Linked DNA regions of Homo sapiens: all the other regions are reported to be linked to region 4. The links are microRNA targets in miRTarBase. Many come from high-throughput screens and were not tested one by one. Region 4 holds a microRNA gene; each other region holds the end of a gene's coding sequence.

The links. The annotated mature microRNA hsa-miR-665 reads ACCAGGAGGCUGAGGCCCCU and lies in region 4 at 3,086-3,105, shown strand. An mRNA with a match to its seed (bases 2 to 7 or 8) in the 3' UTR can be bound and repressed. Matches are read on the target gene's strand: a 7mer-m8 pairs with bases 2 to 8, a 7mer-A1 pairs with bases 2 to 7 and ends in A, and an 8mer does both.
Region 1: miRTarBase lists TRMT112 as a target of hsa-miR-665. The part of its 3' UTR that is shown has no 7-base or 8-base seed match.
Region 2: the mRNA of RBM28 is a reported target of hsa-miR-665. Seed matches in the 3' UTR shown: 7mer-m8 at 4,673-4,679, 8mer at 3,671-3,678 and 7mer-m8 at 2,833-2,839.
Region 3: miRTarBase lists GPALPP1 as a target of hsa-miR-665. Seed matches in the 3' UTR shown: 7mer-A1 at 2,682-2,688.
Region 5: the mRNA of TOMM40 is a reported target of hsa-miR-665. Seed matches in the 3' UTR shown: 7mer-m8 at 4,723-4,729.

The regions. Positions count from the first base shown.
Region 1 is chr11:64,312,473-64,317,561 of GRCh38, forward strand. TRMT112 (tRNA methyltransferase activator subunit 11-2) reads right to left here and starts at 5,087. Exons shown (of 4, transcript NM_016404.3): 1 at 4,977-5,087; 2 at 4,792-4,893; 3 at 4,586-4,675; 4 at 3,988-4,496. The coding sequence starts at 5,054. The coding sequence ends at 4,389. It overlaps ESRRA (estrogen related receptor alpha), which reads left to right. Exons shown (of 7, transcript NM_004451.5): 3 at 1,479-1,595; 4 at 1,767-1,895; 5 at 2,269-2,439; 6 at 2,529-2,798; 7 at 3,235-4,271. The coding sequence ends at 3,494. RefSeq lists an enhancer at 3,591-4,106.
Region 2 is chr7:128,306,068-128,311,168 of GRCh38, forward strand. RBM28 (RNA binding motif protein 28) reads right to left here. Exons shown (of 19, transcript NM_018077.3): 19 at 1-4,864. The coding sequence ends at 4,730. It also overlaps the pseudogene LOC100418961. Among named protein-coding and RNA genes, the nearest start is that of RBM28, 35 kb to the right of the region's middle.
Region 3 is chr13:45,027,580-45,032,670 of GRCh38, reverse strand. It overlaps GPALPP1 (GPALPP motifs containing 1), which reads right to left. Exons shown (of 8, transcript NM_018559.5): 8 at 2,366-4,886. The coding sequence ends at 4,668. Among named protein-coding and RNA genes, the nearest start is that of GPALPP1, 41 kb to the right of the region's middle.
Region 4 is chr14:100,871,990-100,877,090 of GRCh38, forward strand. MIR665 (microRNA 665) reads left to right here and starts at 3,044; the gene lies at 3,044-3,115. MIR337 (microRNA 337) reads left to right here and starts at 2,504; the gene lies at 2,504-2,596. RefSeq lists an enhancer at 1,683-1,852.
Region 5 is chr19:44,902,817-44,907,901 of GRCh38, reverse strand. It overlaps TOMM40 (translocase of outer mitochondrial membrane 40), which reads right to left. Exons shown (of 9, transcript NM_001128917.2): 9 at 4,213-4,872. The coding sequence ends at 4,733. APOE (apolipoprotein E) reads right to left here and starts at 2,106. Exons shown (of 4, transcript NM_000041.4): 1 at 2,061-2,106; 2 at 1,235-1,300; 3 at 1-142. The coding sequence starts at 1,277. RefSeq lists enhancers at 382-1,184, 1,987-2,789.

The DNA of each region.
Region 1 (5,089 bases), not on the chromosome of region 4:
AGGGGGTAGGAGAAAATGCACCGCGAGGAGAAATGTGCTGCGGGCCTGCTGTCTAGCTGTGTCATTTGGTCGTTGCGGGGCCCTGTGAGGCCGGGAGGGCTGCCAGCACCCACCATGTGCCAGGCCTCGTTGCTAGTGCTGGGGCCAGTTCCTGCCCCGGTGGAGCTGCCACTGAAGGGGGAGGCGTAATAAACAAGATAGGTGAGTGCATATGCAGCGTGGTCTGTTGTGCTGAGGGCTGAAGAGAAACCAGAAGCAGGGCTCAGAGGCCAGGAGGACTCTGCAAAGGGATTTGGCATTATCACAGGGTGGCCAGGGAAGATCTTCAAGGTGACAGTGAGCAGAGGGAGGTGAGGGAGCCTGTGTGGACTTCAGGACTAGAGCTCCAGGCAGGGCCTGTTTGAGGAACATGGAGGAGGCGAGAGCAAGGAGTAGAGGTCAAAAGGAGGCAAGAAGCAGGGGCGTAGGCCTAGGAGGACATAGGTTCGCTTTGGCTTGGACTCAGAGAAGGGAAATCCCCAGAGGGTTTTGAGAAGAGGAGGTACAGGATGTAATGGAGGCTTAATAGGACCCTCTTGGCTGCTGAGTCGAGAACAGACTGGAGCAAGCAGGGACAGCCAAGCGAGGGGCGAGGTGACAGTGACTATCAGGTCAAGGGTGGAAGTAGTTGCCAGGGGCAGGAGGCGGATTCTGGACCTTGGAGGAGGTAAAGCCCACCAGAATGTGTCGGTGGCTTGGATGTGGGGTGTGAGAGGAACCAGAGATTCTGCCTAGGTTTCTTCTTGGGCAAGTGAACACGTGGAGTCCACGTAGGCTGTGTTCGGTCCGAGATGCCTTCTAGACATGCAGGATGTCAAGGAGGCAGCTGGAGAGATGGGTCTGGAGCTCACAGCAAGTCCAGGCTAGAGGTAGAAACGTGAGAGCCCCACGGCTGGGGAAGATTGCCATGGGATTGGAGATGAGCTCCAAGGACAGCCCTGGCAGTCTGGATGGAAGAGCTTGGGAAGATGCTCAGAAACCACAAAGTGGCTGGTGCGGTGGGAGGAAAACCAGAGTGTATGCTGTCCTAGAAGCAAAAGAAGAAAGTGTTTCAGTGTTTCTAGGAGCAGGAAGTGATCAACAGCCTTAGATCCTCCTTTTAGGCCAAGTAACATGAGGACTAAGAATTGACCACTGGATTTAGCAATGCAGAGGTCCTTGTGGCCCTTGATGTCGGCAGATGAGGGCAGTGTGGTCCAGAGATGAGGCTTGGGGCTGAGATGCAGCCCCGCTGCCTGGTCCAGCTCCTCCCTCATCCAGGCAGGGCTCCCCCGCCCAGCAGCCACTCCCCTCCCTGCCTGCTCATGGCCCCCTGCTCTCCCTTTCCTCCCCATACCCCCAGACCTGTGCTTGCCCGGGGAGAGTCAGGGCTCTCCTGTCAGCTGGGTCCCCTCCCAGCCCCGGGAGGCCGCCACTGGAGCCCTGCCTCTTCCTGGCAGGGAGCATCGAGTACAGCTGTCCGGCCTCCAACGAGTGTGAGATCACCAAGCGGAGACGCAAGGCCTGCCAGGCCTGCCGCTTCACCAAGTGCCTGCGGGTGGGCATGCTCAAGGAGGGTGAGCGCTGGGCAGGGGCTGGGCGAGGGCTGGGGGAGTCGGGGACCCGGGCCAGGTGGGGGTGAGGCCTGGGAGTTCTGGTGAGTGGACTCGGGGAGGACAGCTCTGGAGAGCAAGCCCCACCCTGCCCACAGCACCACAGTCACAGTCCTATCTGTCCCACAATTCAAGGAGTGCGCCTGGACCGCGTCCGGGGTGGGCGGCAGAAGTACAAGCGGCGGCCGGAGGTGGACCCACTGCCCTTCCCGGGCCCCTTCCCTGCTGGGCCCCTGGCAGTCGCTGGAGGCCCCCGGAAGACAGGTGAGAGCACTGTGGGTACCTGGGGCTACGAAACCGGAGGCCTATGTGTGGCATCATAGTTACCTTGGGCACTGGGACCTGTATTTCCCCTTCGTCTCTTCACTCACTCATTTCCCCAAGACATGTGAAACTGCCTTTTCCTGCATCAGGAAAAGTAGTAGAACTGGGAACAGGGACGATTTTCCAACACTCACAGCCTGTCCACAAACACACGGGCTTTCCCTGGGAGACAGTTAGCGCTCTTCCCTGGAGGGAAGTCACTGGACAGCTGCTACTGAGGAAGGCCACAGGGGGAGCCACTGTGGGAAGATGCTTGACCCCTGAGGCCTGACAGATTCGAGTGCTCCTGACTCTTGTCCTCTAATTGTCACAGCAGCCCCAGTGAATGCACTGGTGTCTCATCTGCTGGTGGTTGAGCCTGAGAAGCTCTATGCCATGCCTGACCCCGCAGGCCCTGATGGGCACCTCCCAGCCGTGGCTACCCTCTGTGACCTCTTTGACCGAGAGATTGTGGTCACCATCAGCTGGGCCAAGAGCATCCCAGGTAAAGGGCCCAGGTGACCCGGGGCTGCCCTGAACGGGCCCGGCTCTGGTGCGCTTGCTCAGCCAGGCCCGCTCCCCGCTGCCCCCTAGGCTTCTCATCGCTGTCGCTGTCTGACCAGATGTCAGTACTGCAGAGCGTGTGGATGGAGGTGCTGGTGCTGGGTGTGGCCCAGCGCTCACTGCCACTGCAGGATGAGCTGGCCTTCGCTGAGGACTTAGTCCTGGATGAAGAGGGGGCACGGGCAGCTGGCCTGGGGGAACTGGGGGCTGCCCTGCTGCAACTAGTGCGGCGGCTGCAGGCCCTGCGGCTGGAGCGAGAGGAGTATGTTCTACTAAAGGCCTTGGCCCTTGCCAATTCAGGTGAGTCTGGGGCAGGCACTGACAGGTGAGGTGTCTCCGTAAGGTCTTCAGGTTAACTCAGTGACGGTAGCACAGCCCCATTTTGCAGATAACGAAAACTGAGGCTTAGGGAAGAACAATGACTTGCTAGAAGTCAAAAAGCAAGCCAAGTGCAGGCTCCAAACTGCACACAGGATTTTGAGCCCTAGTGCCACACTAATGCAGAAAGGTCATTTAGTGGGAGGGAAGGTGGGGAGGGTACAAGGTGGCCACAGTTGAGGGAGAGAGGGTGGGGTCCTGGCCCACGAGCCGCAGCAATGAGTGGTGCCTCTCAGTCAGCCAATCAACAAATCCTCGTTTGGCTCTTCCTTAGGCCCCATCCAGCAGTGCTCAAGATACGGGGAGTGCCCTTGCCAGAGATAGCCCAGGCCAACACCACATTCCTCTCTTCTTGCAGACTCTGTGCACATCGAAGATGCCGAGGCTGTGGAGCAGCTGCGAGAAGCTCTGCACGAGGCCCTGCTGGAGTATGAAGCCGGCCGGGCTGGCCCCGGAGGGGGTGCTGAGCGGCGGCGGGCGGGCAGGCTGCTGCTCACGCTACCGCTCCTCCGCCAGACAGCGGGCAAAGTGCTGGCCCATTTCTATGGGGTGAAGCTGGAGGGCAAGGTGCCCATGCACAAGCTGTTCTTGGAGATGCTCGAGGCCATGATGGACTGAGGCAAGGGGTGGGACTGGTGGGGGTTCTGGCAGGACCTGCCTAGCATGGGGTCAGCCCCAAGGGCTGGGGCGGAGCTGGGGTCTGGGCAGTGCCACAGCCTGCTGGCAGGGCCAGGGCAATGCCATCAGCCCCTGGGAACAGGCCCCACGCCCTCTCCTCCCCCTCCTAGGGGGTGTCAGAAGCTGGGAACGTGTGTCCAGGCTCTGGGCACAGTGCTGCCCCTTGCAAGCCATAACGTGCCCCCAGAGTGTAGGGGGCCTTGCGGAAGCCATAGGGGGCTGCACGGGATGCGTGGGAGGCAGAAACCTATCTCAGGGAGGGAAGGGGATGGAGGCCAGAGTCTCCCAGTGGGTGATGCTTTTGCTGCTGCTTAATCCTACCCCCTCTTCAAAGCAGAGTGGGACTTGGAGAGCAAAGGCCCATGCCCCCTTCGCTCCTCCTCTCATCATTTGCATTGGGCATTAGTGTCCCCCCTTGAAGCAATAACTCCAAGCAGACTCCAGCCCCTGGACCCCTGGGGTGGCCAGGGCTTCCCCATCAGCTCCCAACGAGCCTCCTCAGGGGGTAGGAGAGCACTGCCTCTATGCCCTGCAGAGCAATAACACTATATTTATTTTTGGGTTTGGCCAGGGAGGCGCAGGGACATGGGGCAAGCCAGGGCCCAGAGCCCTTGGCTGTACAGAGACTCTATTTTAATGTATATTTGCTGCAAAGAGAAACCGCTTTTGGTTTTAAACCTTTAATGAGAAAAAAATATATAATACCGAGCTCAAAAACACTGTGTTTGGTGTCATTGGGTCAAGGGTTGGGGATACACACGGCAGAATTCGGAAACAGGGTATAGATCAACAAAAATACACAGTCATAACAAGAAAAACTGGCGCCTGGCACAATCAACTCTCAGTTTCCTCTTCACTCAGCAGCATGTTGGGGATCCCGCGGCTGATGGGGAACATACGTCCAGATTCCGGGCACTGCAGGGTGCCCTCTATCACTTCCACCTGCGGGCAGGGAGGGACAGAGCTGAGCACTGGCAGCCTCAGTGCGGGAGGCAGGTGGCCCGGGAAGCAAGTGATGGGCCGCTTCTCACCTCCAGCAGCAGGTGGTGCATGGTCCTCAGAAACTCCTCATTCTCCTCATATCCCTCAACCGGCCCTTTCGGCACCTGGATCAGACGCAACTGTGGGCAAGAGGCCAAAATTATCTCCGGGCATCCCGAACTCCCGCCTCAGCCCGGCTGAGGTGTGCCCGCCCCGCATTCCCCGGGATATGCTGGGGCGGGGTAAGGATCCTCACGTTATCGGCCGCCTCCAGGAACGCCGACCACTCCACTTTAGGTATCATACGCGCCACGAAGTTGGGGTTGAATTCCACAGGGCAGATACGGACCTCGGTGGCCTGCAGGGCGGAGGAGTTTAGGCAAGCACTGGACCCCGGCCCACCATCCCGCCCGAAAAGGGAAGACTGCCGCCGGCGGGTACCTGGAGGCGCAGGGGGAAGCCACGGGACCCCACCCCCCGCACATGCGAGCTCAGCAGATTGTGGGTAAGCAGTTTCATGTCGCCGCACAAACTCTCGCCAGGCCGGAACCGGA
Region 2 (5,101 bases), not on the chromosome of region 4:
TGGGAAGGCAAGACCTAAAGAAATGACAAGTAAGCCACAATGGCATATGCTTTGTCGAATGAGAGGGTACCAATCAGCGAGTGTGCCGGGGACTTAGAGGAAGGGGTCACAATGCCCTGGGATGGCTGAGGTCCCCACGGAGATGTTGGGCCTTGAGCCAGAACTTGAGTGCTGGATAACACTTGAGTGGAAAGGAGGGGCACAGAGACTGTCCAGATTGGAATGGACAAGGCATAGCAGAAAGTACGGTGGTACACTCAAGGCACTGTGAACAGCAGTTTATTATTATTTTTTCCTTCATGCTGTCTTTTGGGGTCCTTAGGAAATGACTCTGTTGTCCTTCACAAGCCCAGCTAGGCCCTGGAACAAATGGCCTTTAGAGAGTTCAACAGTATGAAACTCCTACTACGAGTAAATCAATGTTAGGTGTTGTGGGGTATGTGGAAAAGTGAAAAAATAATAGTCCCTGCCTTAAAGGACAAGAAATGATTTTCCCTTTATCAAATGTCCAGGGAAGGAAACTGTGGGATGACACTGTGGCAGTGAAGTCTCACATCTGATAAAAGGCAGTGGGCTCTGGGCAGCATGGACAAGTTTAAGAAACACTGGATTTGCCATCTATCAAGATGCTCCATTTAGGGGTGGTCCAAAAGGTCTTTCAGTAACTCAGCAGTTCTCTTCTCAGAATTAGTTCCCAGTCTGTGCCTTCCAATCTTCCCAGTATATTCCTTTACCAGCACAAAAACTCATGTACAGCCAATGACCAGTTCAGAATAGATGCCAAAGTAATCAGACTATACCAGTAGCTCACCCCATGTCTGGTCACCAAGTAAGCCATCACAGACTCTGCAAATAATCCTGGAAAGGAAGAGGTACCAGGACAAGAAGGAAAGAACTAAAACAAGGATGTGAATAACTTCTAAACTGGTCAGCCTTGGACAAAAGGAAATCTGGAAATCTCGACTTGGCCTGAGAGAAACCTCATCCTGGCCCTTAAAGTGCCAATTAAGGCTGAGTTGAAAAGGAGCTGGGCATCATCAAACTGCAAACAAACTTAGCTTAGGCACCCACAGTGTGATGATGTGTTTATTTCCATGAAGGAGCAGTCTATGGAGAAGTGCAGGAACTTTCAAAGTTGCATGGGCAGAGCTGCTTCTTATATGACAGAATTGGCAGCTGCCTGTCACTTCACAGTGGGTCACATGAATATGAAGCAGAGAACTGGCTGTGTGCGTCAGCAGGGGAGCTTAAGACTGCAGATTCTGGGGAATCAGCACTCACTGTGACACATGTGATCCTCTGTCTCCTCAGACAACTGAAGGATGATGAGAAGGGGATCTCTGGAGCCTTGACCTTCTGGGCCCCGAATTTCTAGCTAGAAAACCTCTTTTCAAGACAAAAACATACCAAAGTACATTTTGAAGTATTTCGAAGAATGAATCACATGCCCTAACTTTATAATAGAGGAAGGCACAGATCTCATTTTTGTGACAGGTGAAACATAATCCTTGCCACAGGTTAACTCCAGAAGAAGGAACTGTACAGCTGAACAGAGCAGATTCTTAGAAACTACAAACTAACCAACAAACAAACAAATAAGGCAAAGAACAGCTGCACATCATCTTAAGATTCCTTATTTAAAGGTTGTATCTCTAAGCCAGGCTATTATATAATCAAGCAGGAAAATACTACTAAAACTTGATAGTTTTGACTGGTGGCCTTGTCTTGGATGTTAAGAAAAAATTTGCTGTTGTTTTTCAAAATAATAGAGATGGGGGTCTCACTATGTTGGCCAGGTCGGTCTCAAACTCCTGACCTCAAGCAATCCTCCCACCTCCCGAAGTGCTGCAATCATAGGTATGAGACTCTGTGCCCCACCTGTTGTTTTTTAACCAAGCAATCTGCAACTCAACTTTCATGTTAATTCAGAAAACTCCATTTCCTGACACATCAGGCCCTGAAGTGAAGGAGAAGTGAGCACAACTCTCACTGCACTAAAATTCCCAAGGCAAGGAGTCAATGGAGCTGACCAAATAGCCCATGGTAAGGTGTTCCAAAGGAAGACACCATATATAGAATTTGACTATTAAGAAAGGGAAGATTCAACCTCATATAAAGAACTCTTTAAAGAACTGTACAACAGCTCTCCAAGCAAGTGAATGAGGTTTTAACATACTGTTAAGTTGTTAAAAGAAATATTTGGATCTAAGAGAATCTGACAATGTTATCTGAATGAACACCAATTTTGATCTATCCTAAGTGTTAAGATATATTTTTGAATGTTAAAGATATTCGTGTACTAGGGAAAAAAGAGTGGTGAGCAGACGGAGAGATGGCCAAGGAAAAACAGATCACCTGACTGGCAGGTTATAGCTATTGTGACACTCTTAATAAAGTCCCTTACTTCCTCCACACTGTACAGACCAGGCTGAGAAAGACATGTTGCCAGGCTACCGTAAGAACATTTGACAGCCCAAGTCATGTCTCGAGGTGAACTTGGAGATAAATCACCTGTCCTTTCGATCTCTCCAAAAGGTCTAAATATTTCCATGGCCTCTCCTTCATCCATTTCTAAACCAAAGGCATTTCAGAGCATTCATGGGTTCCCCAAGATATTGCGATGAAATAACCATGTCTCAACCAGGCTCATGCCTGTAATCCCAGCACTTCAGGAGGCTGAGGTGGGCAGATCACAAGGTCAGGAGTTTGAGATCAGCCTGGCCAACATGGTGAAAACCCGTCTCTACTAAAAATACAAAAATTAGCCGGGCGTGGTGGCAGCACCTGTAATCCCCGCTACTCGGGAGGCTGAGGCAGGAGAATCGCTTGAACCCAGGAGGCGGAGGTTGCAGTGAGCCAAGATCATGCCATTGCACTCCAGCCTGGGCAACAGAGCAAGACTGTCTCAAAAAAAAAAAAAAAAAAGAAATAACCATATCTCTAGCTCAGCAATGGTTCTGTCAAAGCATTATTTGTAACACTCAACTAGACTAAGCAATCAAGAATTTTGGGCCACGTTCTCAACTTTTTCTCTTGCCTACTGAATACTGTTTCTTCCTTTCCTACCTTATTTTTTTCATTCAACAAATATTTATTCAATACTTACTACGTGCCTGGGTCAGTACTAGGTGCTGTGTCTACAGGAGTGAACAAGAGGGATAAAGTCCCTCTCACAAAGCATACATTCTAACTGGAGAGACAAACAATTTCAGATAGAGATTAGTGCTAGAAAGAGACAAATGATTTCAGATAGAGATTAGTGCTAGAAAGAAACAGGGAAGCAGGCCAGGCGTGGTGGCTCACGCCTGTAATACCAGGACTTTGGGAGGTCGAGGTGGGCGGATCACCTGAGGTCAGGAGTTCAAGACCAGCCTAGTCAACATGGTGAAACCCCATCTCTACTAAAAATACAAAATTTAGCCAAGAATGGTGGCGTGCACCTGTAGTCCCAGCTACTTGGGAGGGTGAGGCGGGAAAGTCGCTTGAACCCGGGAGGTGGAGGTTGCAATGAGCTGAGACAGCGCCATTGCACTCCAGCCTGGGCGACAGAGTGAGACTCCATCTCAAAAAAAAAAAAAAAAGAAGAAGAAACAGGGAAGCAGATTTCAGTAAGGGGGCAAGATAGAGGGGAGGGGAAGAAAAGCCCTACTTTAGATAGTCTGGGAAGAGCTCCAGGAGGAGGCGACAACTAGTGGAGATCTGAGTGACAAGTAAAAGATGCAAGGGAAAAACTCTCCAGGCAAAGGGAACGGATACAAAGGCTCTGAGGTGGTCAAGAGTCAAGAGATGGAAGGAAGGCCTGTGTAGCCAAAAGTGAATGAAGAAGAGAGTGGATAAAGACAAGCAGAGGTGATAGGGCTGAAGAGCCCAGGGAATCAAATGTTATAGGAAGACAAGATTTCAATCAAAGTGAGATGTCAAACCCCTGGAGTTTTTCAGTAGGTGTGAAGCCATCTTAAGGGGCAGACTTAATGAGGATCAAGTGTCCTCATTAAGGAGGACTTAGAGAGCTAGTGGATACGATGAAAAGGGAGGTGCTCTATGAGAGAAATGCAGGTCATCGCTAACCAGGCTAGTGTCTTTAGGCCACTGCAGGCCAATTCAACTGGAAATCCCCTCATCTGACAAACACATAAGTGCTGCTCTCTGTCAGGCCCCACCTCCCCCCATTCTTTTCCAAGTGTCTCCGCCTGCAGCGATTAGGTTAGAAAGCATTTCTCTCTGCTCTCGCTTAGACAGTTCCTGCAGTGTGTAAGACTACAGAGCTGAATTAGGAATGTCAAAGAATGTTCATACATAATAAAGGAGTCACACATATTAGAAATGACGTTGTTACTAAAAAGCCACACAATATCTCATTTAGAGAATATGCTTAACAAAATATACATCTTAAAAATTCAGCACTCCAGAATGCTTTTTCAGGTGTTTCCATTTGAGAAATAAAGAATAAAAATTGGTAATAATTATAGACACAACTTCATACAATAATCTGGATAATATGCAAGAAGCATCATGTTGACTTTCAGATATTTCTCTTTGTGGCTAACGAACCACACATCAAAGGATGGACCAAAGTTCAGATGTACACAGTCCAGGGCACCTCCGAGCACAGTGGCAGTGCCCTTGGGGATTTTCTTTCCCTCAGTGAGAGACACGGGGGATGGGGAGGAGCCCAGGAGTGTCACCAGAAAGTACACAACCCAGCTTCTTACCCAGCCTGCTGCCATCATCAACTATCAAACCATTTGCTCCTCTTTGCAAGAGGTGCTCCTTTAGAAGGTCCCAATAATTTCTGCTTATATTGTTCGACCAGCTGGTTGAAGCGGGTTTCCGTCTTATTTCCCTTAGCTTTTTTCCTAGATACCTACAAATGAAAGGATTAGAAACATAATATAATCAATTTCAAAGACTATATATCACCTTACCCTCAGGCCACCCAAGAGAGAAAGTAAGTGGGACAGAGATCATATCTACCAGAAAGGGGTAGGTTTCTAGAGAGAGACTCTTAGAGAGAAAGGCTCAAACAGAATCATCCACTGGTAAGAAATTAGACCAAGAGTGAGTGCACAGGGAGCAGGGCCTGACTAACCTCCCTGTCTGC
Region 3 (5,091 bases), not on the chromosome of region 4:
ACTTTGGGAGGCTGAGGTGGGCGGATCACCTGAGGTCAGGAGTTCGAGACCAGCCTGACTAACATGGTGAAACCCCGTCTCTACTAAAAATACAAAAATTAGCTGGGCACGGTGGTGGGCGCCTGTAGTCCCAGCTACTTGGGAGGCTGAGGCAGAAGAATCGCTTGAACTCGGGAGGTGGAGGTTGCAGTGAGCCGAGATCACGCCACTGCACTCCAGCCTGGGCAGCAAGAGTGAGACTCCATCTCAATAACAAAAAACAAAACAAAGAATCATTCAAGGTTAAGATGATAAATTAAATGTCAAGTGGTTGCTACATCTAAACAAGATCTACATCTAAACAAGGTTGCTAGCATCTAAAAACTCTTAGATCAGGGCTTTTCTCTTTTTTCTTTTTCTTTTTTTTTAGAGCAAGACTTAATTTACCATGTTGTGCCTAATACAAAAAGGATTTCATTTATCTGGTAAGGCAGTCTTAGTAGGGGTGTAGCCACCATCTCTCGTGTTTTGTTCACCCCTTACTTCCCCACTTGCTAAACCCAATAACCCCACCGTTTACTTACCAGTAATGTGGTTACTATTTGAAGCATCTAAATCTATTGGAGATGACAATTTAGAGAGCTGGACAAAAATCATATAATTTCAAGTATAACAAACTTAAATGGCATATTCAATGGTAAGAACATTAAAAGTATCTGCTCCATTATATTAACTTAGTGTTGCTCTTTTTTTCTTCTTCATTTTTAAATTTCAAAAGAGGCCACATTCCTATGACACTTGGCCAAGAAATGTAGGAAATTAAAAAGTCCTTATTAAAATGTCTCCTGCCAGATGGAAAGGAGACTTGATTCAATTAGGCCTTTTGCATCTTTGGAAGTGGGGAGGGGATGAAATAAAGACACCTTTCCGTCCTGTGCAATAACTACTTTGTCCTTTTGTTGTCAATATTCTTGTATTGGGATTAGTCTCTCTGTGGGGCAAAACAACCTCTGAAACTGGCCTTACATTTTGTTAAAATTATCCTCAGGTTGGCACAAAAGAGCATTATCTCCAAGGCCAGTAAGGTAGTAACTCCTGGAAGCAATAGGCGGAAAGCAGAGGTTTCTCTCCTTCATGCCAAGGTCATGGTCACTCCAAAGGTGAGGGATGAAACAGTAAATATATAATACAGAAATATCCCTATTCTCTTTAAATGAGGAAAACAAAGAAAAGTAAGTATCCAAAGATAACAATTTTACTTTAAAAAATGCAAATTTCTCAAAAATATATGTTAAGAATTTACATAAGGAAGAGGAGCTACAAAATACTTTTTTCCTTTCATTGGGAAAAAATTATAACAAAATTAAATTAATGCAATGGAGACACTCTTGTACAAAATTTTGTGTTCAGAAAATACTGCTCATTAAAAATGACATTTTTAGTCAAAAGGTAGCTCTGTTCAATTTTGAGTACACAAGAAGCTTTTTCAATTTGCTTAGGAGAAAAATTCATCTATTTATTTACTTATTTATTTAGAGATGGAGTTTCACTCTTGTTGCCCAGGCTGGAATGCAATGGTGTGATCTTGGCTCACTGCAACCTCCGCCTCCTAGGTTCAAGCAATTATCCTGCTTCAGCCTCCTGAGTAGCTGGGATTACAGGCACCCGCCACCAGGCCCGACTAATTTTTATATTTTTAATAGAGACAGGATTTCACCATGTTGGTCAGGCTGGTCTTGAACTCCTGACCTCAGGTGATCCACCCACCTCGGCCTCCCAAAGTGCTGGGATTATAGGTATGAGCCACTGCGCCCAGCTAATTCATCTTTTTAATAGCAATGCTCCTTTAGTTTGCTATGGTTTACACTGATGCTATGGAAAAAATATACTGTACTGCTATTATTAGAGGAAGAATAATTTGTACCATCATATAAACAATATACTCAATTTTCATAAAGCTTACATGAACTGGGAATCAGAATATTTTTCCATTAAAAATTTGTGTCTTGGCCAGGCATGGTGGCTGATGCCTGTAATCCCAGCATTTTGGGAGGCCGAGGCAGGTAGATCACCTGAGGTCTGGAGTTCGAGACCAGCCTGGAACAATATATAGTGAAACCCCATCTCTACTAAAAAATACAAAAATTAGCTGAGCATGGTGGTGCACGCCTGTAGTCCCAGCTACTTGGGACACTGAGGCAGGAGAATCGCTTGAACCCAGGAGGCGGAGGTTGCAGTAAGCTGAGATCACGCCACTCTACTCCAGCCTGGGTGACAGAGCAAGACTCCATCTCTCAAAAAAACAAAAATAAACAACAACAAAAATTTGTGTCTCATCAAAACTAGAATACTAGTGGAACAATTGGGATTAATCTGCAAGAAAATATAACTTATAGAATTGGCATTTATTTAACAATAGTTTAATAGTTTAAATAGAATTTCTCATCTTATAAATTTATCATCTTAAGAGGCAGTGCTTAAAGCATTACAAACTTATAATACTCCCAATTAGGGGGGTTATGATTATAAATTTTCCATTTCCATTTTTGTATTCAGGGATTATTAAATTTTTAAAAAAGGCTATTCATGACTGATATGACCCCCGTAAATTAGCTAAAAAAAAGATATGACCCCATAAATTAGCTACAAACTGTTAAGTACAGCATATAAATGGGTAAAGTAAAGTTGTCCCAAAGCAAAGTTCCAGGACTCAGAAAGCTTTGGTTGAGATCAGAGATTGAGTCTTACAGATTTCACAATGCTAACAGTTAATGGCATATCTTATCTTGATTGCCTCCCCTAGAAATACTAACTATTAAAGTTGGAAAAAGCAAAATAGTTTTTCCTTAGCACATGAGATAACCCAGAGATCTTTCTGACTTAAAAACAATTAAAAAATTAAATAACAAATAAAAAGCCCTGAGTGCTAAAACAAGCAAACTGATTACAAAACAGGCAAAACCCCATACCCTCTATTTTCAAGTAAATTTGTATTCACTGGCTGCAGTTTAAAGGGAAAAAACAACAAATTTCAAAGTCATGGATTTACAGTAAGGACTTGACACACTGACTCTAGGGCAGGTTAGGTATATTTCACAAGGAGGTCCAGGCTGTGGTAGAGATTTGGTGGTCAGTCCTGACCAGACCTTAGAGGGTACTTGTGAGACACCACAAAAATCAGGGGGAATGGAAGCCTCTTAAAATAATTATTTGAAGAAAAGCCCATAATTCCCCATACTTCCACAGAAGCTAAAGGCACATAGAATATTCTGTTCTACATAAAAAACATTCGTTTTATGTTTCCACATGACCTTAAAAGGACATACAGAACAAGGTAAATTTGTATGTTTTTTAAGATTAAAGTAATCTCTAATCTTAAGAAGCCAAAAACAAAGAAATAAAGATGGACAAAGAGTATTCTTCAACTTTTCTTCATTGCACAGGGAAATCCCCCTGAGGTAAGAATAAGAAAACTCAGTAAGTTGGAAAATATTTCTAAATTTAACATATTTTCCTCAAAAATCACATTTGAATATTGATATAGGTTTAATACAATTAAAAATCATAAAGATATTAAGAAGCAACCTCAGCTTTTATGTAATTTCTTTTCTTCTCTTTTTCTTTCTTTTTTGAGACAGAGTCTCTCGATCTTGTCACCTAGGCTAGAGTGCAGTGGCACGATCTCGGCTCACTGTAACCTCCACCTCCCGGGTTCAAGCAATTCTCCTGCCTCAGGCTCCCAAGTAGCTGAGATTACAGGCACGTGCCACCACACCTGGCTAATTTTTATATATATATATTTTTAATAGAGATGGGGTTTCACCATGTTGTTCAGGCTGGTCTCGAACTCCTGACCTCAGGTGATCCACCCGCCTCACCCTCCCAAAGTGCTGGGATTACAGGTGTGAGCCACTGGCCTCTTTTTTTTTTTCTAAAGAGACGAGGTCTCACTTTGTTGCCCAGACTGGAGTGCAATGGCACAATCACAGCTCACTGCTGCCTTGAATTCCTGGGCTCAAGGGATCCTCCCACCTCAGCCTGCTGAGTAGCTGGGACTATAGGTGTGCTCCACTGCACCTGGTTAGTTTTTTGTAGATACGGGGTCTCACCATCTTAAGCAGGCTGGTCTCAAACTACTGGGCTCAAGCGATCCTCTCACATTGGCCTCCCAAAGTGTTGGGATTACAGGCGTGAGCCACTGCACCCAGCTTTATGTAATTTCTTAATCACCATTCTGAACCCTTGTCAGATTGGGCTATGGATGAATATTGGAATAGTTTTGAACCTTAACTTATAGGGGACCTTTCTAAGCAACAAACATTTCCTAGTTGGGATTTTGTTTAACATACAAACAACCAGCAAGCCTTTCTTCATCTTTAATAAAGCATGCATATTTACTCAAGTATCAAACCACACCTTCCTTTGCCATTTCTCATAAGCTGAATTTTTATTTTAGCATTTTTAATAGCAATGCCCTATTAGGTTATTATGAGGGATTTTTCCAGTAAGACATATTTTTCATCCCACAAGGCTGACTTTTCAAAAATCACTGTTTACTTATAAAAATATAAAATTTTTAATCTATTATAAAAGGAAATAGATTTCAGCACAATTATTAAAGACAATAGAGTATTTAGAAAAGTTCACATTGATCAGTATTAAAATATACCTCACTGAAATATACTTACTTATAAAAACATATTGCCTTTGCCGTGTGAAAATCTGGTGTTTAGTTCTCTAGATTTTTTTATTAGGGCTTTTTTCTGAGCTTCATCAAACCGATTAACCTTGAGATCTTTATCACGGTCAAATGGTATTCTCTCTTGAGGCTTATTTTTGTCTTCAGCAGCCTTACTCTTTAACTTTTTATGATGTATGTCCATAAGAGATTCTGATCTTTTTGATTCCTGGAGAGAGCAGGAGAGCAGAAATAAAAACTATAGTTTGTATATAGATTATTGACAGAATATGACCATGAAACGGAATAGATAGTAATGGTGCACATTAAGGAGGGCTATTTACAAACCCCAGTAGTTTTTTTTTTTCCAAATCCAAGACAGCATTTATAAAGAAAATATGTAATGAAAAGCATTATGGTTATTTAAATACTAA
Region 4 (5,101 bases):
GGGTGTCCCATGGAGCCCCTCCTCTTCCTATGTGTCATACTCAGCACCTCCTTCCACCTCCTGTTCCATGGAGCCATTTCTCCTTCCATGTGTCATCCTCAGCTCCTCCTCCCTCCCAGGTGTCCCATGGAGCCCCTCCTCCTCCATCCTTGTGTCATGTTCGACACCTCCTCCACTCATATGTCACATGGAGCCTCCACCCATGTGACACAAATAATTTCTCATCTACTTGTATCACACTGAATGTTCTATCTTTCTTAAGGGTGTCACAGCAAGCCCCACTAATGTGTCACAGGACGCCCCTCTCCCACTCTTGTAGCACACTGAGCTCCTTCCACCACTTAGGTGTCACTCTGACCCTGTCCTCTGCGTGTGTGTCACTAGGAGCCCCACCCATTCAGCTGCACTCTAAGTTCCTCCTCTAATCATGTGTCACACATGTAGTCTCTCCCCACACTCATAAGTCATACAGAATGCCTCTCCCCATCCATGTATCACATTGAGTTTCTCTTCAACATGTGTTACTCAGAGCCCTTCCCTGACTCATGTGTCACCTGGAGCCCCTGTCCCTGTCCATGTGTTACACCGAGTTCTTTCCTGCTCATATGTCACATGAAGCTCCTCCTCTACTCACAAGGCACACAGCACCCCCTGCCCGTTTGTCGAATGGACCCCTCACCTCATGCATGTATAACACTGAGCCGCTCTCCCACCCCGTGTCGTACTGAGCTCCTCCTCCACTGATGTATTGCATGGACTCCTTCTGACACGCGGAGCCCTCCCTGCACCCTTGTGTCTCACTGGGCATCTCTTCCCAACCTTGTGTCCCGTGAGATCTTCCCCCACCCACGTGTCACATCAAGTCCTCTTTCTTGTGTTACTCCAAGTCCCTGCCCCCATATGTCACAGAGAGACTCTTCCCACCCACGTGTCACACCAAGTCGCCTTTCTTGTGTTACTCCAAGTCCCTTCCCCCCATATGTCACACAGAGACTCTCTTCCCACACACGTCACACTGAGCCCCTTTTCTGTCTCACATTCCACCTCTCCTTCACTCATGTGTCATGAGGAGCCTTTTCCCTACTAATGTGTCACCTGAGCTTCTCTCACATGTCACTTGAAGTCCTCCCCTTCCCATGCATCACCCAGAGACCTTCCCCCCACTCATGCATTGCCCTGAGCCCCTCCCTTACTTATGTGACATGGAGCCCCTCTCCACACCCATGTGTCACACCAACCCTCTCTCCACTGATGTGTCACACCAACCCCCTCTCCACCCATGCGTCACATGGAGCTCTTCCCCCACCCGTGTGTCACACCAGCCCCCTCCTCCACCCATGTGTCACACTAACCCCCCCCACCCATGTGTCACACCAGCCCCCTCCTCCACCCATGGGTCACACCAACCCCCTCCTCCACCCATGTGTCCCATGGAGCTCTTCCCCCACCCGTGTGTCACACCAGCCCCCTCCTCCACCCATGTGTTACAGGGAGCCCCTCCTCCCTCCATGTGTCTGTCAATCTGAGCCCCTTTTCCATTCATGTGTCACTCTGAGCCTCTTTCCCACCTCCATACCCTCCTGCCACCCCTACTTCTTAATCTTTAACCCCTTTCCCTAAAGGTTTCCCTCCATGGGCTCTTTCAGAGAATGTTATATTATCAGGTCATTTACTCACAGATATTTTTGCACCACCTACCACGTGCCTGGCTGCGTGTCCCTGTGCATGTGTGTTGGTGGTGTGGATGGCTGGAGAGTGTAGGACGAGGCAGGCAGTATGGTGGTTGAGAAAGATGTCAAAGAACAAAGGAAGGTGTTTTGGGGTACAACTTTATTGAGATGTAATCCACATACACACAATCCGCCCATTAAAGCTCACAGCGAAGTGTGTTTTAGTTATTCACAGATATCTGCAACTATCACCATAATCAATTTAAGATCATTTTCATCACCCCCAAAAGAACTCCAGAGCCTTCAGCTGTCACCTTCACCCTCCATGCACACCCCCCAGCCCTCAGCAACCAAAAATCTACTTTCTGTCTCTGGGAAATTCTTGAAGTGCCCCTGGACTTCATGAGTCCTCACTGGGTCCCCAGAGGTGCCTGTTGCAACCCATTTCACAGATGTAGAAGGCAAGGCTGGAGAAGTACCAGGGAGTCAAAGCAGTGGGTGGGTGGGGTCGAGTCCCCGATGTCCACTCACAGACCTGGGCCAGAATCAGGCCTGTCTCCCCCTTCACCTCCCCATCCTCCGTCCCTTGGCCTGGCTGCACAGTCACCTGGGGGCTCTGTGGGGCTAAGGGAGGCCCAGGCCCTGGCCATAGGAGGCAGGTAGGGCAAGGCTGGGCAGGGTGGACAGGTACCCCAGCGCTGCAGGTGCCCAGCAGTGGGTGGCACTGCCTAGGCTGGCTGTCCCTTGCTGTCACTGCTCTAACCACTAGCAGCAGGCGTCCCCTCTGCCATCCGAGCGCTTGCACTGCGCTTCCGGGAGGAGGGTTGCGGCCCGTAGTCAGTAGTTGGGGGGTGGGAACGGCTTCATACAGGAGTTGATGCACAGTTATCCAGCTCCTATATGATGCCTTTCTTCATCCCCTTCAACCACGCGCAGCCCCCGGACCCTCCTCTGCACCCTTGGCTGCACGGGGACGCGTCCTCAAGTCCGCTGCTGTCCTGCCAGCCTCTTCCCGGCATGCTCCTTGGGCTCTTCTCTCTCTCTTCTGCAGCTCTCTGACTTCCTGGAGGGGAGGGCCTGGGGCTGGGCCATCTCTGAGGCCCCTCCTTGGCAGGGAACTATGCCCCTGGTGGGACACCCCCTGGGCTGACTCCACAGCCAAGGGCAGATAGGCCGGAGGGGGAGTTGGGTAGCCCTGGGGCTTCTCCCACTGAGGGGCTGGGGCTGTGCTCCCACACAGAGCCCTCCAAAGGGACCCGGCCCACAGGATGGATGGACAGACGTTGGAGAGATGGTGCCCCTTTGTGCCCAGGGTGGAGGGGGTGGGGCTTTGGCGGACCAGGGCTGGCCCTTTCTGTGCCCCAAGAGGAGGGTCTCCTCGAGGGGTCTCTGCCTCTACCCAGGACTCTTTCATGACCAGGAGGCTGAGGCCCCTCACAGGCGGCTTCTTACTCTCTCCTTAAACCTGTTCTGGAGACATTTCCCCTCTCCCCAAGGATTCCCAACTCTGGGTCCCCAGAAGCTGTCAGCTGGGCTCCCTTCTTCCCCTGTGCGTACCCTGCTCAGGCTGGGTACCTGAGGGTGCCCAATGGCAACATGAGCAGGGGGCACGGCCGTGGCCCCTGGTTCTTGGACCTCTGTCTTCTGCCTCTCTGACTAACTCAGGTCCTGTGCATGGCAGAGGTGACCCGCACCAAGCCCTGTGATATTGGCATCATTAACCCCATTAACAAGCCACGACAGCCAGCCCAGGCATGAGCATCGGGGCAGCAGGGCAGCCAGTGTGGGGAGAGAGGCCTTGCAGTAGCTGAGGCCATTAGAGAGGACAAGAGGGTGCAGGAGGGAGCATCCTCACCTCTGCCCTTCCCACTTACATCCCATCTCCCCTTCCTCACCCCTCCTTCCCCATGCACCCCTTCTTCCTGTAGGAGGGAGCACCCTCACCTCTGCCCTTCCCACTCACCTCCCATCTTCCCTTTCTCACCCCTCCTCCCCAATGCACCCCCTCCCTTCCTGCAGGAGGGAGCACCCTCTCCCCTGCCCTTCCTTCCCACCTCCCGTCTCCCCTTCCTCACCCCCGCTTCCCCCATGCACCCGCTCCCTTCCTGGTCTACCCCTCAGCTTCTGTGGTGTCAGGATGGGTATGCTTGTCTTTGTTGATCTCAGACAGGTGGACAGGGGTCTGGACGAGGCTTACTGTTTGGGTCTGAGGTCAGTGCTCATGGGCTTGGGGCATGACAAGGGTCTTGTCGTCCCCGCAGCAGGGCTCTGAGCGGGTGGGTGGAGCTTGGGAGTGGGGGTGATGGCTTCTATTTGTTGTCTTTCTCTTTTTCACTTTGGGAGCAACCGGGGTCACCAGGTGGGCAGGAGGGGACCTCACGTCTCTGCCCTGGGCAGATTGTTAAGAGCTGGTCAAGCTCCTGGCACGGGGGCCTGAGTCCAAGGCCCTAACTGGACCTGGGGCCGCCTGCAGGAGGGATGAGCGAGTCCGGACCCGAGCGGTGAGTAGCCCTCAGCTGCCTGGGTGGTGTGCTGTTGAGTGTTCCAGAAACTGGCCCTGTGTGCACCAGGGCTGGAGGCTGGCACGTTGGGCATCTCATGGGGGTGGGCTGGGTCGGGAAGGGAGGTTGATGGACAAGACTCAGCAGGAGTGGAGCTCAGGGCTCCCTCCATCCCCTGACATCAGTGACCTGGGGGTGGACAGAGAAGGTGGAAGATGGGTGCATTTAGTTGTGGCCCGCCAGGTCCCGTGGGCCTGTGTGCCAGTGTCCGCGCCAGGCTGTGCTGTCTGCTGTTCAGAGGAGTTTTCACCTTTTTTTGTGGTGGCCATGATGTCATAACCCAGCATGACATTTAACATTAACCTTCCTTTTTCTTTCCCCAGGAGAAAAAAAGGTTTGTATTATTTTTCTTTTGAATTTTTTATTTCCATAGGTTTTGGGGAACAGGTGGTGTTTGGTTACATGAGTAAGTTCCTTGGTGGTGATTTGTGAGATTCTCGTGCACCCATCACCTGAGCAGTACACACTGAACCCAGTTTGTACTTTTATCCCTCACCCCCTCCCACCCTTTTCCTGGAGTCCCCAGAGTCCGTTGTATCACTTTATCAGTAGTTCTCCTCTGGGCCTGGGGGCTGCCGCTCTTCTCTGTAAACTAAACCTGCTGTGGCTGGATGGGGCAGGGGAGCCAAGGAGGCGAGGTCCTCACTGTCTGCTGGTGTGGGGGGCCGTGGCCACTCTAGCACCGGGAGCCCCCAGTCAATATGTGTGTGTGTGTGTGAACTGTGGATAAATACGCTTACCTTAGCGCGTGTCTGGATTCCCCCACTGTGGGGCACGGGTGATTACTGCTGGTAAATTCTCTGTTTGGCCTTACCCTGCAAGGTAGTCCTGTTCATCCCTCCACCTTTTTTTTTTTTTTTTCTTGAGACG
Region 5 (5,085 bases), not on the chromosome of region 4:
GACAGTGTCTGCACCCAGCGCAGGTAATCCCAAAAGCGACCCAGTGCCAGTTCCCAGCGCTGGCCGCTCTGCCACTCGGTCTGCTGGCGCAGCTCGGGCTCCGGCTCTGTCTCCACCGCTTGCTCCACCTTGGCCTGGCATCCTGTGTGGAACAAGTTCAAGGTGGGTCAGGGTCCTTCTGACCCCGTCCAGGCATCTAGTACCTAGGGGCACACAGAAGGTGCTCCACAAATGCTTCTTTGGAGCCATGGTGGGCAGGGTGAGGGGGGAGTCGGTTTAATCACTTGGAAAGCATTATGTATTTATAAACAGGGTCTTGCTCTGTCACCCAGGCTGGAGTGCAGCGGCCTGAACATGGTTCACTGCAACCTTGACCTTCTGGGCTCAAGCGATCCTCCTGCCTCAGCCTCCTGAGTAGCTGAGAGCACAGGTGTGTGGCACCATGCCTGGCTAATTTTTGTATTTTTAGTAGAGACAGGGTCTCACTATGTTGCCCAGGCTGGTGTTGAACTCCTGGGCTCAAGTGATCCTCCCACCTTGGCCTCCCAAAGTGCTGGGATTACAGGGGTGAGCCACCGCGCCCAGCGGAAAAGCATGTATTGAGTGTCCTTGTGTGCCCCAGGCAGGGCTGTGTGGGGGTGATGGAGAATAAAGATCACAGCTGCCCCGTGTCTGGTATTCACTATCTGCCTGCAATGCATTAGAAACCTCTAACTCCCAGCCAGGTGCGGTGGCTCACGCCTGTAATCCCAGCACTTTGGGAGATCGAAACGGGCAGATCACCTGAGGTCAGGAGTTCCAGACCAGCCTGGCCAACATGGTGAAACCCCGTCTCTACTGAAAATACAAAAAAGTTAGTCGGGTGTGGTGGCATGTGCCTGTAGTCCCAGCTACTTGGGAGGCTGAGGCAGGAGAATGGCGTGGACCTGGGAGGCGGAGCTTGCAGTGAGCCGAGATCCCGCCACTGCACTCCAGCCTGGGCGACAGAGCGAGACTTCATCTCAAAAAAACAAAACAACAACAACAAACAACAACAACAAAACAACTTCTAACTCCTATCTCAAGGATGGGGGAAACCGAGGCCCAGAGAGCGTCAAATCGCTGTTCAGAGCCAGGAAGCAGCACAGAAGCCTCAGAAGAGGGGGCCCAGGGTCTGCCTGAATGGGGCCAGGAGGTTGAGGTGAGGATGAGAGGGGGAGGAGCGGGGGGAACCGAGCAAGCCCCGCCCCCATACCTGCCAGGAATGTGACCAGCAACGCAGCCCACAGAACCTTCATCTTCCTGCCTGTGATTGGCCAGTCTGGGGAAGGAGAAACTGTCAATCAACCGCCAGTGAGGACTCCTCCCACCCCCAGCCCGGCCCCAACCCGGCCTCACCCCAGGTTAGCCTTCCAAGCCTTGTTGCATTATCTGCAACAGCCTAATCCCAGCACATTTACCAAGCCGCCCCCAACCCATTCCCTATTTAACTCCCTCCTGGTCTTCTCTTATCTCCCCATCCCCAGGTCGGCCTCCATAGAAAATTCCATCTTCCTCTCCCGGGGTTCAAATTCCATCCCCCCACCCCCTCCCCACCGCCGGTTCCATCTCAGTCCCAGTCTCGCATTCCTCATTCTCCCTTCACATTCTAAGCTCCAACCTCACAGTTAAGCGCCGTGTTCCATTTATGAGCTAATTCAGTCCTCATTTTAAAGTTCTCCAATCGACGGCTAGCTACCGTGTCGCTGCCCCTGGCTCCCCAGTTATGGAGATCTGAGGACACTGGGGACACCCAGTAGGTGCTCGATAAATGATAGTGACAACTCGTGGAGTCCTGCTATGGCTTACATCCCAGTCCAGCTGCTCTCCCCACCCCACCTTCTAGCGGGTCGGGTCGTCTCTGCTGCCCAGCCCTTCCCAGGTCCAGTCCCCTGCTGCTTGCCTCACCCCCGCTCCTCCTCTCCCCAAGCCCGACCCCGAGTAGCTCTCCTGAGACTACCTGGAGGCCAGGGGTTCCCAGGGTCCCAGCTCTTTCTAGAGGCCCCTGAGCTCATCCCCGTGCCCCCGACTGCGCTTCTCACCGGCTCCTGGGGAAGGACGTCCTTCACCTCCGCTGGGGCTGAGTAGGACTCAAGGATCCCAGACTTGTCCAATTATAGGGCTCCCCCTGTCCCGCCCCCTCCCCCAGGGATAGGGCGGGCTGGGCCAGCCCCCAGTCACGAGGTGGGCTGTTCTCCCCCTGCCCCAGGCACAGCAGGGCAGAGGGAGGAAGGAGGTGGGGCATAGAGGTCTTTTGACCACCCCCCACAGTCCCCAGGAAGGGAGGACACCTCGCCCAGTAATACAGACACCCTCCTCCATTCTGGGGGCCAAGCGTGGAAGGGGAATGTGGAGGCTGCCGCCCAGAGTCCTCCTTTCCTGACCCTGTCCTTTCCTGTGCCTGGATGAATGTAATCTGGAGAGGGGGCTGGGGATCTGGACTCCTGGATCCCAGAAAGAAAGTAGGGCTAGGGGGCTGGACAGAAGTGGGATGGGAGGGGCTGGGGGCGGTAGCTCACGCCTGTAATCCCAGCACTTTGGGAGGCCACAGTGGGCGAATCACTTAAGGTCAGGAGTTTGAGACCAGCCTGGCCAACATGGTGAAACCCCATCTCTACTAAAAATACAAAAGTTAGCCAGGCGTGGTGGCGGGCGCCTGTAATCCTAGCTACTTGGGAGGCTGAGGCAGGAGAATCGCTTGAACCCGGGAGGCGGAGGTTACAGTGAGCCGAGATCTCGCCACTGCACTCCAGCCTCAGCAAGAGGGAGACTGTCTCAAAAAAAGAAAAAAAAGAAAGTGGGGCTAGGCGGCTGGACAGAAGTGGGATGGGAGGGGTGGGAACAGTATGATGCACCTGCTAAAAGTCGAGGCTTTGCAAATGGGACCTGGGTTTTAATCACAGCTTCCTCTTTGGTTGTGACCTTGAGCACAGGGGAGCCCCCTCCCCACATGTGAAATGAGATTCCAGCACCTCCCCCTGGCTGCCACAGGTATTGTGGTTTCCAGGGGCTTGAAGCCGTGCTTCTGGGTTAAGGTTAGGATTCTGGAGTCAAATTGCCAGGGCGTGAATCCTGGCTCTGCCAGTTGCCAGCTGTGTGACCTTGGGCAAATGACTTGTCCTCTCTGAGCATCAAGTTCCTTTGCTCATCAGACTGGGAAAGCAGCGGCACGGGTATGTTTGGTGACAAGCTAACGTGTATTGAGCATGGAGGACAGCCCTGGCACACAGCGGTCCTATGTTAGGGCTAGCAATGGACAGGCCACAGTGAACGCTCAGACGCTGTCACTTTCCTAAGCCCTGTTATAAATCCCAGATGTTTCAGAGGAGAAACCCGTGGTTCAGCAGCAAGACGAATGGCAAAACCACACAGTGAGAACTGGGAGAGACTGGGACTCATTCCTGGCTCCTGGAGCGGGTGGGATCAGAAGATTCTGCGGGTCAGGGGAGGCTGAACTCCTGGTTCGAGAAGGAACCCCCAGTGCCGGGCCGGGCCTGTTTGCTTTGGCTGGCAAGGGGTGGCTGAGGTGGGGTTGGTAACCTGGGGTTGGTTCTACTCAGCAGCCTCCTTCCCCAGACCCTGGGGGCAGACAGGGTTTCAGTTCCTGGAGGCTCGGGAGTCGTGGTGGGCATCAGCTGACCCCAGCCCTAGGTTGGCAAAATCCAGACAGCACCAAGTCCTCAGACACAGGTGACCCAACTCCCATGGCTGGCCTAGGCCCCTCCTCCCAGGCCTGCGAGTCCTTGAGCCCCTTCTCCCTGACACAGCAGTTCCTAGTACCCTAGTTGTTCTGAAGCTGTTCCAGTAGCTTGAACCCTCTCCCAGCTCCCTGCCCCCATCTCTGCACTCAGAGACAGTGTCATCTCTGCTGCTGCAGTCTGCAGGGACAAAGTCCTCTATAGCCACTCCGGCCAGGTCAAGCTGGGGGCAAGTGACCTTGAGACCCTACCCTCAGGCAAGGGAAGGCCCGTAGTGTCCCCCAGCAGGGCAGATGTTCCGGATGGGAAGATAGCGACCCCAGGCCACGCTGCGCCCCTCTGAGCCGGACTTAAGGCAGCATCAAGGATCCGCTGCTTTCCGTGCTCCGGCCCTCTGGCGCCCCCTGCAGGCGGCTGGGGGAAGGTCAGGGCGGCCAGACTCCGGATGAAATGCTCAAAACAGGCCAGACACACTTGAGAAAACGGAGGCCTCCCATCGTTTTTTTTCCCACGTATATTTTTTGTTGTTTTTTGTTTTTTTTCTGTAAAATGTCCCGGTTCTTCCATAACTTATAAACATGATTTATACCGAGGAGATGGGAAAGTGGACGGGGCAGGGTGGACTGACCGGGGATGGGGAAGCTCCTCTCGCTGCCCCCTCGGGGCGGGCCCAGGCCCTTTGGAGGATGGGGACGCCAGGACACTCCTCCCTGAGGTTGTCTGGCCGCCTCTGCCCCTGGTGCTCAGAATCCTGCGTGCCCCTCAATTCCGGAATCCCTCCCGGGACCCCAGGCCCACTGGGCATGCTGCCCCTGCTACTCAGAATCCCGAAGCGCCATTCAGTTCCAGAATCCCCTCCTCAGCTGCTGGGGTGGCGGGGTCCCTCCTTTCCAATGTCCCCCCCGACCCCCAAGGGGGGAGGGAAGGGAGGGGGGCTCAGGTCTCCCCTCTGTGGCAGGGGGAGGTGGAGGTGGAGGTGGAATCGGAAGGGCGTGGAAGGCGGGGGCCAGGAGGGCTCAGCCGATGGTGAGGCCAAAGCCACACTGAAACTTGTTCTTGCGGTGATTCAGGAAGGCCCCAAGGGCCAGTGTCAGGGGCAGGGGTGGGAGCTTCTTCTCCAGCGTGGCACCCACGATCCAGTTGCTATCCACAGAGCCTGCAGGGAAGAGCTGAGGTGAGAGGCGTGCCAGCTTCCCACCATATCCATGCAGAGTTCCTGGCCACCTTGGATACCAGCCACATGCCGACAGCTTCCAGACCTTTAACCACACTGCTCCTGCCACCCTGAAACCCCATCACACCAACAACTTCACGCTGGAGCAAATGGCTCACTCCTCCTCTGCTCTCCGCTCAGTGACCCCTGCCCTCT